Regions from separate parts of the Homo sapiens genome. Here region 1 is linked to region 2. Evidence: fine-mapped expression QTL. Tissue or cell type: whole blood. Region 2 holds a variant in brackets; the other region holds the start of a gene. All regions are shown on one strand. Distances are between the middles of the regions.

What was found. PIP is the estimated chance that this variant, and not a neighbour inherited with it, causes the effect.
Region 1: it holds the start of MAN2A2, and the variant in region 2 is fine-mapped to the expression of MAN2A2 in whole blood (TOPMed, PIP above 0.99).

The regions. Positions count from the first base shown.
Region 1 is chr15:90,899,373-90,906,104 of GRCh38, reverse strand. MAN2A2 (mannosidase alpha class 2A member 2) reads right to left here and starts at 2,803. Exons shown (of 23, transcript NM_006122.4): 1 at 2,673-2,803; 2 at 1,766-1,915; 3 at 597-854; 4 at 382-526; 5 at 89-260. The coding sequence starts at 1,897. RefSeq lists enhancers at 1,813-1,872, 3,713-3,762 and silencers at 2,823-3,252, 3,273-3,542.
Region 2 is chr15:90,924,160-90,931,995 of GRCh38, reverse strand. It overlaps HDDC3 (HD domain containing 3), which reads left to right. Exons shown (of 4, transcript NM_001286451.2): 3 at 52-292; 4 at 591-2,028. The coding sequence ends at 721. It also overlaps a transcript of UNC45A not described here. Among named protein-coding and RNA genes, the nearest start is that of HDDC3, 4.5 kb to the left of the region's middle. RefSeq lists enhancers at 50-279, 1,910-2,139. The variant C/T (reference allele first, on the strand shown) is at 3,682.

The DNA.
Region 1 (6,732 bases), 25 kb after region 2:
CCTTGGCACCCATAGCTTAAGGTAAGACCCGTCCACCCAGCCTGGGGCTCAGACAATGCCCTCCCATGCCTCCCCGCCTGGTACTGGCCTTCGGACTGCCGCTCTCTTTTGGACATTGATGTTGTCCCACCACTTGGCGAAGAAGGAGACCTCTGCCCAGAGGAAGCGCCGCCGGGGGTCCTCCTGCAGCTTAGACACCATGCTATTGAGGATGTGTTGGGTCTGCTCTGTGTAGTACTTGTCAAAGGTCTTGATCCAGCCTAGGGAGCCAATGTAGGGTCCCCTGAGGATGCCACCATCTTCTTCGACGTCCCTCCCTTGTATTGGCCATCAGAAATCCCACTCCACACTCCAGCTCCCAGGAGTCTGCAGGGCCCTCACCTGGGTCATTGTGAGAGTGGGGCACCACAAACACCTGCAGGTCTTCAGCATCCCAGTCGTGCGGGTCGTAGGAGATGTCGAAGCCTTGCCTCCACACACCACCATCCACGTTGTCAAACGGCAGCTCCTCCGACACAGTGAGCATCTGCCAGGTGAACTGCAGCTCAGTACCCCAGTCGTGGCCACTGTACGTCCCTGCCAGCTCTGACTCTTACCTGCAGCTCTGGCTTCTGACCCCGGCCCCCCAAAGCAAACTGGCAGTCCTGCGGGGAGATGGAGAAGAAGCTGGGCCGGGGCTCCGGTGGCACCACCCAGGAGCCATTGACCGTGTAGTAGGGCAGCATGGCGGGCGGGCCCTCTGCGTTGGCTGTCAGCTCCAGCACGGAGTCCTTGATATGGCTGATAATCTCATGGTTCTCCTCCAAAAGCTGCTCCAGCTGCTCAATGCGGTTCTGCAGCACAGAAATTTGGCTCTGCCAAAAAACCAGAAAGCAATCACACACAGCTCCTTATGCCACAGGGAGGGTCTCTGCTTGGGGTCTACCAGCTGAGGCCTGAGTACAATTCTTCCCTCATCAGTCAAAGCCAGACCATGAGCCTAGAGGGATAGATGACACCGTTCAGATAAAGGGAGCTGTGCAGATCACCACTGAGGACTACACTCCACTTGGGTTGGGAGAACCATCACTCTCTAGCTCAGGGATGGCAAAGATTTCCTTTCACCTACCTATTCTCAACAATCGGTGTTGCCTGTGCTGAGGATTTCAGCGGGGCTTAATGGCAAAGAATGCTGCAATCAATTAGCAATGTCTGCCAAGAATTCAGGAGGGGCTGGGCGCGGTGGCCCACACCTGTAATCCCAGCACTTTGGGAGGCCAAGGTGGGTGGATCACCTGAGGTCAGGAGTTCAAGACCAGCCTGGCCAACATGGCGATACCTCGTCTCGTCTCTACTAAAAATACAAAAATTAGTCGGGCATGGTGGCAGGCTCCTGTAGTCCCAGCTACTTGGGAGGCTGAGGCAGGAGAATTGCTTGAACCTGGGAGGCGGAGGTTGCAGTGAGCCAAGATCGCGCCACTGCACTCAAGGCTGGGCGACAGAGCGAGACTCTGTCTCAAAAAAAAAAAAAAGAAAGAAAAGAATTCAGGAGAACAGAGTGACAATACTCATTGCCATTGACATTTTTTCTTCCTTCCTTCTTTTCGCCATCACTGTTTTTAGCTGAGGGTTTCTACAAAACCTGACTATTGGGAAGGAAGGCTCCTGTCCTGTACTGACATTACCCTCCAGCGGGGGGTGGGAGGGGAGGCGGCGGGGTGGGAGGTGCATACCCTGAGCCCAGGTGACTTGTATACAAAGAAATTAGCAACCAGGCACGACTCACCCGGGGGAAGTTCCCACCATTCTGGTGTCGGGTGGGATCGTGTTGCACTCGGTCCAGCATGAGGTAGAGCGAGAAGACTGCCACACAGAAGATGGCAGCCCCACACACTGTCACCTGCTTTTTCAGCTTCATACTGGCCTCCACACACACCTGGCAGGAAGGACACCATCTGTAGCTCCAACATGCAAAATGCCCGTGGCAGTCTTTCCACCAAATACCCCAGTGAGTTCCTGAGGGCTGTTCCAAAGGAACACCCATTTGCCTGGCTCCAAGTAGCACAAGCAGCACATCTGAGGCTGGCCCACCTGGTCCTGGTAGCAGCTCTGCCGCTAGGGTGGAGAGGACGCTCTCCTTTGGCTGGTGCTATGAAAAACGGGCCCAGGATAAGAGTCCCAGCTCCGACTGGAGCGCACCACACAAGCTCCTGATTACACAGCTTCCCTGCCTAGATAGGAGGTGCCTGTTCAGGCTCCTCGGCCATGTGCTTCTAGTTTCAGGTGAATAAGCTAGTCTCTATTTTGTTTGATTTAAAAGTTTAGCCAGAACCCAAAGAGACTGATAGGAAAGCCTTTCTCAGTGCCCTTTCGGGTCAAACTGGCACTCACCAGAAACAGTGCCTGGCACGATCCTTTCTCAGAAACACAGAATGAGTTTCTTTCTAATAAAGAAGAAAGATGCTTGTGTTTCTAGCATAAAGCAAGCCCTGTGTGTTCTCCCTGTTTCTCTACTGTTCACTGCAGTGGGAAACTTCCAGCCGCGGTTTGCAGAGCACTTAGGGGACCCCTAGGAAGCCTGCAGTGACGCCGAAGGCCCCCTGGGAAGGGAGAGACGGGGCCCAGTGCTCAGCTGCGAGGCAACTTCAGGGGACCCGTGCCCCCCGCCGCCACCGCCCTCGGGCTCCGCTTGCCTGCTCAGGAGGAAGGAGGACGCTAACTGCGGAGCCGAGCGTGGGCGGGACCGCGCTCCGGAGTCTGCTCCGCGGGCCCTGGGGCCGAGGAGCTTTGTCGCCTCTGCGTTGTGCCCTACTTAGCGCGATCTGATTCTGCTCGGGAGCTTCCGGGCAATATTTTCAGCCCTTAGAGACTGGGTCTAGGCCAATGTGGGTGGAGCTGGGGAGAGAGTTGGATCACAGAGGGCAGGCACCTGCCGCCAGGTCTCTGGCCGCCCGCCCGGCTCCCTCCCCACCCGCTCCGACTTCGTCGGCCCCGGGGACCGCAGAGACAGGCGCCAGGTACGGGCCTCAGGCAGCCTCCTGTCCCTTCCTGGCCCCTCTGACGCCGCAGTGGCGCTCGCACTCCCGCCGCCCGAGCCCGGCCTCTGTCGGGGCAGCCGGAGCCCTCCCGCGCGCGCACCCGGCCCGTTACCGTCAGCGCCCGGCCTCCGCGCCGCTCCGGGCCCAGTCGGCCGAGCTGCCGGCTCTCACACGCCCGGGGACGGCGGCCCGCGTGCAGGCAGCGACGCAGGCGAAGGCGGGCGCCCGCCCACCCGTAGCCCCCTGCTCCGCGCGCCGCTGCCGCGCTCCCGCTGGGCCCCGGGCCGCCGGCGCGCTCCGCTGCGCCGGCCCCGCGCGGGTCCGCCAGCCTCTGAAGCTGCCGGGCCCAGCAGCGTGCGGGGCGGGGACAGCCGCGCCGCCCGCCCCGGCCTGCGTGTGCCCGGCGGAGCTGACAGGAGCTCTGGCCGCCGCGGTCCCCGCCCGGCTCCTCCCGGGCCCGCTCCGCTGGGCTGCAGTGCGCAGCCGCACCAGCCCGGGCCGGGCCTGGCCAGCTGCGGAACCTCAGGAGGGACGCGCGACTGAATTTTTTCGGAATCCTACTTGAGTAAGCGCATGATCGGGCAGTGGTCGAAACGCCCGCCTCCGTCTCGGCAGACGCGTAGCGGGGTGCGTTCTCCGCGGCCTCACCCGGCTCCGGCCCAGGTAGCCTTAGGTCTCTGTCGTTGCGCCCCTCGGGCAAAGGGGTGCTGCCTCCTGTCGGTACAGCGCATTCCTCGAGTCCCTTTCCTTTCCGTGCCTGCTCTATGTTTCCTGCCAGCGAGTGAACAAGACACAGACTTTTCTTGGCTGTTTCCCTTTTACTGGGCATCTAGGTTGTTTACAGTTTTTCAGTGTAATCCATACTGCAATGAACATCTCCATGAATTCCACATTTTTGTTCTTTTTAAGTTATATATAACATTATCTGAATGTGACCCCCCAAATTCATGTTCAAATCCTAATCCCTCAAGGTGATGATGGTATTAGGAGATGGGCCTTTGGGGGTGAACAGAGTTTGAAGGGAGAGCTCTCATGAATGGGATTAGTGCCGGTATCAAATGACCCCGAGAGTCGGCCCCTTCAACCACGTGAGAACACAGCTAGAAGGCACTATCTGTGCACCACAGGCAGGCCCTCACCCGACACTGAATCCGCTTATGCCTTATCATGGACTTTCCAGCCTCCAGAACTGTGAGAAAATACATTTCTGTTGTTGATAAACTACCTACTTTATGGTATTTTGTCCTAACAGCCCGAACAGATTAAGACGTTATTTTATGATGAATTTGCAACAGTGAAGTTACCCGGGCAAAAGATAAGGACAGAGATGACTGATGACACTATCGCTCCCCCAAAAGACTGTACCAGTTTACACCATCAATAACAAACTGCTGGATATTGCTTAAACAATGTTTTAGCTGATTAATGAGATATATAATGCCATCTCATTTTTAAAAATTTTCCTTTAAGTTCTGGGATACATGTGCAGAACATGCAGATTTGTTACATAGGTATACATGTGCCATGGTGGTTTGCTGCACCCATCAACCCATCATCTAGGTTTTAAGCCCCACATACATTAGGTGCTCTCCCTCACCTTGCCCCCAACCCCCGACAGGCCCCGGTGTGTGATGTTCCCCTCTCTGTGTCCATGTGTTTTCATTGTTAACTCCCACTTATTAGTGAGAACATGCGGTGTTTGGTTTTCTGTTCCTGTGTTAGTTTGCTGAGAATGATCAATGCTATCTCTTATTTAACGACCATTTCTTTTTTTTGAGACAATATCTCACTGTTTCCCAGGCTGGAGTGCAGTGGCACCATCTCAGCTCACTGCATCTTTGACCTTCCAGACTCAAGCCATCCTCCCACTTCAGCCTCCTGAGTAGCTGAGCCTTACAGGTATGTGCCACTACACCCAGCTAATTTTTTTATTTTTTAATTTTTTTATTTTTATTTTTTGAGACGGAGTTTCGTTCTTGTTGCCCAGGCTGGAGTGCAATGGCGCGATCTTGGCTCACTGCAACCTCCGCCTCCCAGGTTCAAGCGATTCTCCTGCCTCAGCCTCCCAAATAGCTGGGACTACAGGCACGTGCCACCATACCTGGCTAATTTTGTGTTTTTAGTAGAGATGGGGTTTTACCATGTTGTCCAGGCTGGTCTCGAACTCCTGACCTCAGGTGATCCACCTGCCTCAGCCTCCCAAAGTGCTGGGATTACAGGCGTGAGTCACTGTGCCCGGCCCTAATTTTTTTATTTTTTGTGGTGGGTGGGAGGGTCTCACTGTGTTGCCCAGGCTGTTCTCCAACTCCTGGGCTCAAGCGATCCCCCCACTTTGGCCTTCCAAAGTTCCAGGATTACAGATATGAGCCATAGTGCCCAGCTCTTTTTATTTTTTTATTGTTTTTGACAAGCTCTTGTCTGTCACCCAGGCTGGAGTGCAGTGGTGTGATCATGGTTCACTGCAGCCTCGAACTCCTGGCCTTGATCCTCCTGCCTCAGCTTCCCAAAGTGCTGTGATTACAGGGATAAGCCACTGCACTCGACTGCCACTTCTTTTATCACCATCAGGAACAGCTTTCCAGGTTTGTTTACTCACTGGAATGCCTGTTATTAGGGTGTTAGACCTAGACTGGGCTCATCATCCTCTTTGTCTTTTCATATTTTGCCTTGTGTTCTGGGAGATTTATTTTCCAGCCCTTCTATTGAATTTTCCATTTTGGTAATTTTTTTTTTTTTTTTTTTTTTTTTGAGACAAAGTCTCACTCTGTCGCTCAGGCTGAAGAGTGGTGGCGTGATCTCAGCTCACTGCAACCTCTGCTTCCCAGGTTCAAGTGATTCTTGTGCTTCAGCCTCCCGAGTAGCTGGGATTAGAAGCGCGCACCACCATGCCCAGCTAATTTTTGTATTTTTAGTAGAGATGGGGTTTCACCATGTTGGCCAGGCTGGTCTTGAACTCCTGACCTCAGGTGATTTGCCCACCTCGGCCTCCCAAAGTGTTGGGATTACAGGCGTGAGCCACCGTGCTCAGCCTCATTTTGGTGATAATCTTCTTTTTTCCTTCGTTTTGAGAGGGAGTTCTGCTCTTGTTGCCCAGGCTGGAGTGCAATGGCGTGATCTCCACTCACCACAACCTCTGCCTCTGGATTCGAGTGATTCTCTTGCCTCAGCCTCCTGAGTAGCTGGGATTACAGGCATCTGCCACCACGCCTGGCTAATTTGGTATTTTTAGTAGGGATAGGGTTTCTCCATGTTGGTTGGACTCGTCTCGAACTCCCAACCTCAGGTGATCTGCCCACCTCAGCCTCCCAAAGTGCTGGGATTACAGGCATGAGCCACCGCGCCCAGCCTGATAATCTCAATTTTCAAGAATTCTTGTTTGTTGTCTGGTGGTTCTTTTTTAAAAATTTAGGTACAGTTTACACTGTGTGGCACAAATCTTAAGTGTACAGCTTGATGGGTTTTGATAAATACATACACAAGCATAATCACCACCCAGATCAAAATGCAGGACATTCCCATCTACCCAAAATGTTCCCGTGTTAAGTGGCCAAGCAGTCCCTAAGCACACCATAGTGGCTGTCAGACTGTGGTCCAGCCTTGCCTATGTGGCCCATGTAGAGACACACATGGTTGTAAGGGCACCATGGTGAACCTTTTCCCCTCCATCTTCACACGCCTTTCCATCAGGACCCTCCAGACATAAGCACTGCTTTGA
Region 2 (7,836 bases):
ATGGGCAACCCTTGGCTGACATCTCAGGGCTGAGTGGGAACTTGTCCCCAGGCGGCCCTGCTCCATGACACGGTGGAGGACACAGACACCACCCTGGATGAGGTGGAGCTACACTTTGGGGCACAAGTGCGGCGCCTGGTGGAGGAGGTAACAGATGACAAGACTCTGCCCAAGCTGGAGAGAAAGAGGCTGCAGGTGGAGCAAGCGCCCCACAGTAGCCCCGGGGCCAAACTGGTGAAGCTGGCAGACAAGCTGTACAATCTGAGGGACCTGAATCGCTGCACCCCAGAGGGTACGCTTTCGTATGGGCTGTAAGGGAAAAGGGAGGGGGATGCCGCCTTCTGAAGACACATGTTGGTCAGTTCCCCTGAAAAACCCTGGGCATTCTTAATTCCCAAATTAATCCTACTGGACCACTCTTTGATCTTCTTTCATACAGTAAAAATACAATAGCTGGGCCAAGGGGAAGTTTTCAGGACAGCTCATTCCATCAGGAACTCATGGCCTTGAACCAAGCTTGCCAGGAAGTGGGGAAAAGGCAGTGCTTTCCTTGACATCACGCTAGCAAGTTTCTGTCGACTCTTATGCAGGATGGTCAGAACATCGAGTCCAGGAATACTTCGAGTGGGCAGCGCAGGTGGTGAAGGGGCTTCAGGGAACAAACCGGCAACTGGAAGAGGCTCTAAAGCATCTGTTCAAGCAGCGGGGGCTGACAATCTGATCAGTGCTTGAAGCTATCCAGAGGCACAACTCCAGCCTCGTTCAGGCCGGACAGGATTCATACGCCATCTTTTCTGTGTCTCCTGAGCTCCCTCCATCCTTCCCAGATATTAGAGGCCAAAAAAAGACTTGCATTTTTTCTCAGTCTGAAGGTCTCCTGCTAACTAAGCTGAGCCCCGCGTGGTGGGAATCAGATGTACCCATCCATTTCTGATGCACTCACCGCCTCTCCCCAAGTCTTGGGTCTGTTTGCTATTTTGCATGGTGGGATCTCTGGCCCCTCAGGGACTTGAGATTATTTAAGTACTAGTTCCTAACACGTTCTGGAAAATAAAAATAACTCTGGGTTAAGGTTTAAGCTGCTGCTGCTCCTTCTCCAGCCTCCGACTGGTGGGCTGCATATCTTTCCTTCAGCAAAGCAGGACTAATTGTGTGTCCCGGAGTCACCTCCCTCAGGTTGCGGGCCTCAACCCCTCCGAACCTGGCTTCCTTGTCAGTGACATGGGTTGTGTAATTATCAGGTTAGACTGTGACGTGCCTGATGGAGCCTGACACATAGGTGCTCAAGAAATGGTAGCAGCCTTTCCCGTTAAGAAAGTTGGAAGGGGGCCAGGCGCGGTGTCTCTCGCCTGTAATCCCAGCACTCTGGGAGACCGAGGCGGGCGGATCACTTGAGGTCAGGAGTTCAAGACCAGCCTGGCCAGCATGGCGAGGCCCCGTCTCTACTAAAAATACAAAAAAAAATTAGCCGGGCGCAGTGGCTCGCGCCTGTAATCCCAGCTACTCAGGAGGCTGAGGCAGGAGACTCGCTTGAACCCGGGAGGCGGAGTTTGTACTGAGCCGAGATCGCGCCACTGCACTCCAGCTTGGGTGACACAGCGAGACTCCGTCTCAAAAATGAAAAAAGAAAAGACGTATCGGAAGGGAGTGCCGCCCGCTTACTGACAACCACTGCTGGGCACCGGAGAGACCCCAGCAGCAACATGATTGGGCCGGTGGGGGATTCCGGTTCCCCAGTACCTCAAGCCGCGCGGGAAACTCGGTGACTCGCAATCCCCTCGCCCTTCCGCATTGCGGGTTACTTCGGTTGTTAAGTGACAGGGACTTCCGGGAAGGCCCGGAAGTGGCCCGGGGCTGTCCGACCCCGGGAGCCCGGCGGTCGGCGTAGGGGAGGCGGTGGAACTTTGCTCGGTGGCCATGGGGAGGGATTGCCCGGTGGTGGTTTTTCAGTCGTTGCTGAGCAGCTGAGGTTTATTTTTATGTATTTTATTCTGCATCCAGTCATCCATTAAAGCCAAAGTTTATTAAGTTGTCTGGAAAAGCGATCATCTTGGGTACGAGGAAATTGTTAGGTCAAAGCTGTTCGACTACGATAGTTGTTTGCCCAAGTGAAGGCCCCAGCGGAGGGCTCTGCGAAAAAGTAGGTGAAAGGCAACCAAAAAAGCCGAATTAAAAGAAAACAAATGAACAAAGTTCAGAGTAATCCCCAGGGTATGGTACATTTTGGAGAACTTTGAACTTAATTTTTTTAAATAGTTTTGCGGGAGTAAGATAACGAGATTTTTTTAAGAAAAGATGACTTTGTTGTAGTCCACTTTATATATTTTGTTGCCTGTGTTTTTAGTGTCATATCTAAGAAATCGTTGCCAAATCTAATGCCATGAAGCTTTTCCTGTTTTCTTCTAGGAGCTTTCGTTTTAGCTTTTTTTTTTGAGACGGAGTTTCACTCTTGTTGCCCAGGCTGGAGTGCAATGGTGCCATCTCTGCTCACCATAACCTCCGCTTCCCGGGTTCAAGCTATTCTCCTGCCTCAGTCTCCCGAGTAGCTGGGATAACAGGCGTGCGCCACCACGCATGGCTAATTGTTGTATTTTTAGTAGTGACGGGATTTATCCTTGCTGCCCAGGCTGGTCTTTAACTCCTGACTTCAGGTGATCCACCCGCCTTGGCCTCCCAAAGTTATCGTTTTAGCTCTTACAAGTAAAGTTTTTGATCCATTTTGGGTTAAATTTCTTTTTAAATCAATTTAATTTGGTATAAGGTATACATGATGTTATGAGGCTACATACAGGTAGTAAAAAGGTTACTATAGTGAAGCAAATTAACACATCCATCATTTCACGTAGTTACCCAATTTTTTGTTGTTTTTGTGGCAAGAACATTTTGGGTTAATTTTTGTATATGGTGTAATTTTTTTGTATATACACCATATACAAAATATATGATGTATGGTTTTGCTTGTGGATGTCCAGTTTTCCTAGCACCATTTGATGCAAGGTCTGTCCTCTTAGTACCTGTTTTTGGATTTTTTTATTTTTTATTTTTTAGTAGAGATGGCGTTCCACTAAGTTGGCCACACTGGTCTCGAACTCCTGACCTCAGGTGATCTGCCCACCTCAGCCTCCCAAAGTGCTGGGATTACAGGCGTGAGCCACTGTGCCCAGCCTTGAATAACTCTTCACAATATTGCTTTCTAGAATTTTAGTTCCTGCCTCTTTTTAAACTATAAACTAGTATTACATTTATAGCCAGTATTTAGGTGTACCCTCCCTCTCATTAGTTTATGCCCCTAGACAAATTCTCTTTTTGCTTAAGTACACCTACTTTCTTCCACTAAAGTTTTGTACATTGCAAACTGTTGAGTCTTTGCATGTCTGAAAATGTCTTCATTTCCCCCGTGCTCTTGAATGGTGTAGCTGATAGCAAATTCAAGGCTGAGTTTTCTCTAGGTTTGAATGGACTCCAGGTGTCTACTGTAGCTAACTAGATGTCTGCTATCACTGTGATTGTCTTTCCTTTGTAAGACTTTTCTATTTTTTTTTTTTTGAACAGCATCTCCAATTTGCATTCATAAAATTATTAATCCAAATTGCGAAAGTAGACTTTTACAGAGTCACAGGTCAGTAACAAAACAGGAAATGAAATGTTCCAGAGCCTTTTTTTTTTTTTAAGATGGATTCT[C/T]GCTCTGTCACCCAGGCTGGAGTACAGTGGCGCAATCTCGGCTCACTGCAACCTCTGCCTCCTGGGTTCAAGCGATTCTTATGCCACAGCCTCCCTAGTAGCTGGGATTACAGATGTGTGCCACCACGCCCGGCTAATTTTTGTATTTCTAGTAGAGACAGGGTTTCACCATGCTGGCCAGGCTGGTCTCAAACTCCTGACCTCAAGTTATCCGCCTGCCTTGGCCTCCCAAAGTGCTGGGATTACAGGCATGAAGCCATCGTGCCCGGCCTCCAGAGACATTTTGATAAGTTCCAAAGAAACACACTAGGCAGGCTGGGTGCAGAGGCTCACGCCTGTAATCCCAGCAATTTGGGAGGCCCAGGCGGGTGGATCACGAAGTCAGGAGATCGAGACCATCCTGGCTAACATGGTGAAACCCCGTCTCTACTAAAAATACAAAAAAATTAGCCGGGCATGGTGGCGGGCACCTGTAGTCCCAGCTACTCGGGAGGCTGAGGCAGGAGAATCACTTGAACCCAGGAGGCGGAGGTTGCAGTGAGCCAAGGTCATGCCACTGCACTCCAGCCTGGGAGACAGAGCAAGACTCCGTCTCAAAAAAAAAAAAAAAAAAAAAGGCCAGTGTGGTGGCTCACGCCTGTAATCCCAACACTTTGGGAGGCCGAGGCGGGTGGATCATGAGGTCAGGAGATCAAGACCATCCTGGCTAACACGGTGAAACCCTGTCTCTACTAAAACTACAAAAAATTAGCCAGGCGTGGTGGCGGGCGCCTTTAGTCCCAGCTACTTGGGAGGCTGAGGCAGGAGAATCACTTGAACCTGGGAGGCAGAGGTTGCAGTGAGCCGAGATCACGCCACTGCACTCCAGCTTGGGCGACAGAGCTAGACTCCGTCTCAAAAAAAAAAAAAAAAAAAAAAAAGCTAGGCTAAAAATCTACAGTTAAACCATGGTTGTACAACAGGTTATATTCATTCCTGCAGTTTCTCAATAAGTTCTTATATTTGCCTTTCTCTTTTGAGAGTGAATCCCACTCACTCTATTGCCAAGGCTGGAGTGCAGTGGCATGATCTCAGCTAACTGCAACCTCCACCTCCCTGGTTTAAGCTATTCTTCTGCCTCAGCCTCCTGAGTAGCTTTGACTACAGGCGCATGCCACCAGCCCAGCTAATTTTTGTATTTTTAGTACAGACAGGGTTTTGCCATGTGGGCCAGGCCGATCTCAAACTCCTGACCTCAGGTGATCCACCCACCTTGGCCTCCCAAAGTGCTGGAATTACAGGCGTGAGCCACCGTGCCTGGCCTTTAGGTTTTATCTTACGTAATTTGCAATATATCTACACGAGGTTTTTTAAATTGTTTTAATTTTTTTGAGACGGAGTCGTGCTCTGTCGCTCAGGATGAAGTGCAGTGGCATGATCTTGGCTATTTGCAACCTCCATCTCCCAGGTTCAAGCGATTCTTCTGCCTCAGCCTTCCAAGTAGCTGGGATTACAGGCTATAGGCACACACCAGCATGCCCCGCTACATTTTGATTTTTCTGGTTTTTGGGTTTTTTTGTATTTTTAGTAGAGACAGGGTTTCACCACGTTGGCCAGGCTAGTCTCAAACTCCTGACCTCAAGTGATCTGCCCACGTTGGCCTCCCAAAGTACTGGGATTATAGACATGAGCCACTGCACCTGGCCTGTTTATTTATTTATTTGTTTGTTTGTTGTTGTTGTTGTTGTTTTGAGACGGAGTCTCACTCTGTCGCCCAGGCTGGAGTGCAGTGGCGCGATCTCGGCTCACTAAAACCTCTGCCTCCGGGTTCATGCCATTCTCCTGCCTCAGCCTCCCAAGTAGCTGAGACTACAGGCGCCCGCCACCATGCCCGGCTAATTTTTTGTACTTTTAGTAGAGACAAGGTTTCACCATGTTAGCCAGGATGGTCTCGATCTCCTGACCCCATGATCCGCCCGCCTCGGCCTCCCAAAGTGCTGGGATTACAGGGGTGAGCCACCGCGCCCAGCTATCTATTTTTTTTGAGATGGAGTCTTGCTCTGTCACCCAGGCTGGAGTGCAGTGGTGCGATCTCGGCTCACTGCAACCTCTGCCTCCTGGGTTCTCGCCATTCTCCTGCCTCAGCCTCCTGAGTAGCTGGGACTACAGGCGCCTGCCACCTGGCCCAGCTAATTTTTTTGTATTTTTTTAGTAGTGACGGGATCTCACCATGTTAGCCAGGATGGTCTCGATCTCCTGACCTCATGTTCCACCCGCCTCGGCCTCCCAAAGTGCTGGGATTACAGGCATGAGCCACCGCACCCGGCCTGGCCTTTTTTTTTAAATGTACCTTTCTTGGAACTTAATGAGCTCTTTGATTCTGAGATCTCACATCTTTCTTCAGTTCTGAAAAATTCACCGTCTTTGTTTTCTCATCCCTGTATTCTCACTAGTCTTTTTTTCTAAAACTGCTATGAAACATTATGCCAAAGCTTCTCAGTCTATCCTCCATCTGTCTTAGCTTCTTTTTTATATTTCTTTTATCACTGTGGTGCATTCTGGGTGATTCCTCAGTTGTTTTCCAGACCTGCTAAATTTTTATGTCATCTGCCTCCAGTCTAGGGCTTATACCATACATAGAGTATATTTCAATAATTGTATTTTTACATTTCCAGCATGTATAATTTGTAAAATCTTATTTGCTTCTTTTCAGTCAGTTTCTCATTGCAAGACTGAATATCTTTAGCTCTTTGGTGATTGCACATATATATTTTTTAAAGTATTTTTTTAGATTGCTTGCATGTCATCCTGTTTTTGTTTGCAACTTACATTTTTCCTGCCTGTGTACCTCTCAGAGTCTGGTTCTGGTCCCTTGACGTTCCTAGGTTACACTTGGTTACCTGTCCCACGTGGACTTTGAAGTCCCAGCACCTACCATCCTGAACTAGTCTCTACTTCTCTCAAGCTGTATAGCCTCAGCCTCTGCTAATGGCTGTATTATTCTCTCCATTCTTTGTCAAAGAAGATTTCCTTTATTTTGAGTTTGACAGTTTTTGCTTTCTTTTTTTTTTTTTTTTTTTTTTTTTTGAGATGGAGTCTTGCTCTGTTGCCCAGGCTGGAGTGCAATGGCAAGATCTCAGCTCACTGCAACCTCTGCCTCCTGGGTTCAAGTGATTCTCGTGCCTCAGCCTCCCAAGTAGCTGGGATTACAGGCGCCCACCACCACACCCGGCTAATTTTTGTATTTTTTAGTAGAGATGGGGTTTCGCCATGGTGGTCTGGCTGGTCTGGAACTCCTGACCTCAGGTGATCTGCCTGCCTCGGCCTCCCAAAGTGCTGGGCTGTGCCCGGCCTGTTTTTACATTTTTAGTATTTATTTAGCAATCTCTGGCATTAGGAGTTGAGAGGGCAGAATTATAGGTGTGCTTGCGCCTCTAGTTGGAATGCAAGTCTCTAGGTATGTTAGTCTGTGCTGTTATGACAAAAATACCTGAGACTGGGTAATTTATAAAGAACAGAAATTCGTTTTCTCACAGTTCTAGAAGCAGGAAGTCCAAGATGAAGGTGCTGGCAGGTTCGGTGTCTAGCGAGGGCTGCTTTTTGCTTCCAAGGTGGTCACTGCATCCTCACACAGTAAAAAAGGCAGGCTGTGTGAAGCCTCTTTCATTAGGGCCTTAATCCTATTCACGAGGGAGAAGCTCTCATGACCTAATCACCTTCTAAAGGCCCCACCTCTTAATATGCTGCATTGGAGGTTAAGTTTCAGTATGAATTTGAGAGGGACACAAATATTCAAACTTGCGGGAGGCATGCTGACTGGGAAACCCCAGTCCTTCCTACTCCACTGAGGGGCCTTCTCTAGGTCTCCACACTCAATGCTGTGTCTCAAATCTTCAACTCTGTCACATTCAGAATGACAGAGTCCGCATCTCCAACCCCACTTTGGTTTCCTGTGCCCAGACTACCTAACTACATGGATTTTTAGTTCAGGTTTATTCTCAACTAGGGAGGTCCAAAGTCAGGAGCCAGAATGTCAGGAGTCAGGAGCCAACTGCAGACCCAGCTGGTCCTGGGTACTGTTACCATCTGAATTGATTTCTCACTGACCCTAAGTAAAATTGAGGGTTGTTGCGAAGGATCTGGTCTCTGTCTTATCTCTTCTCACTATGAGAATGA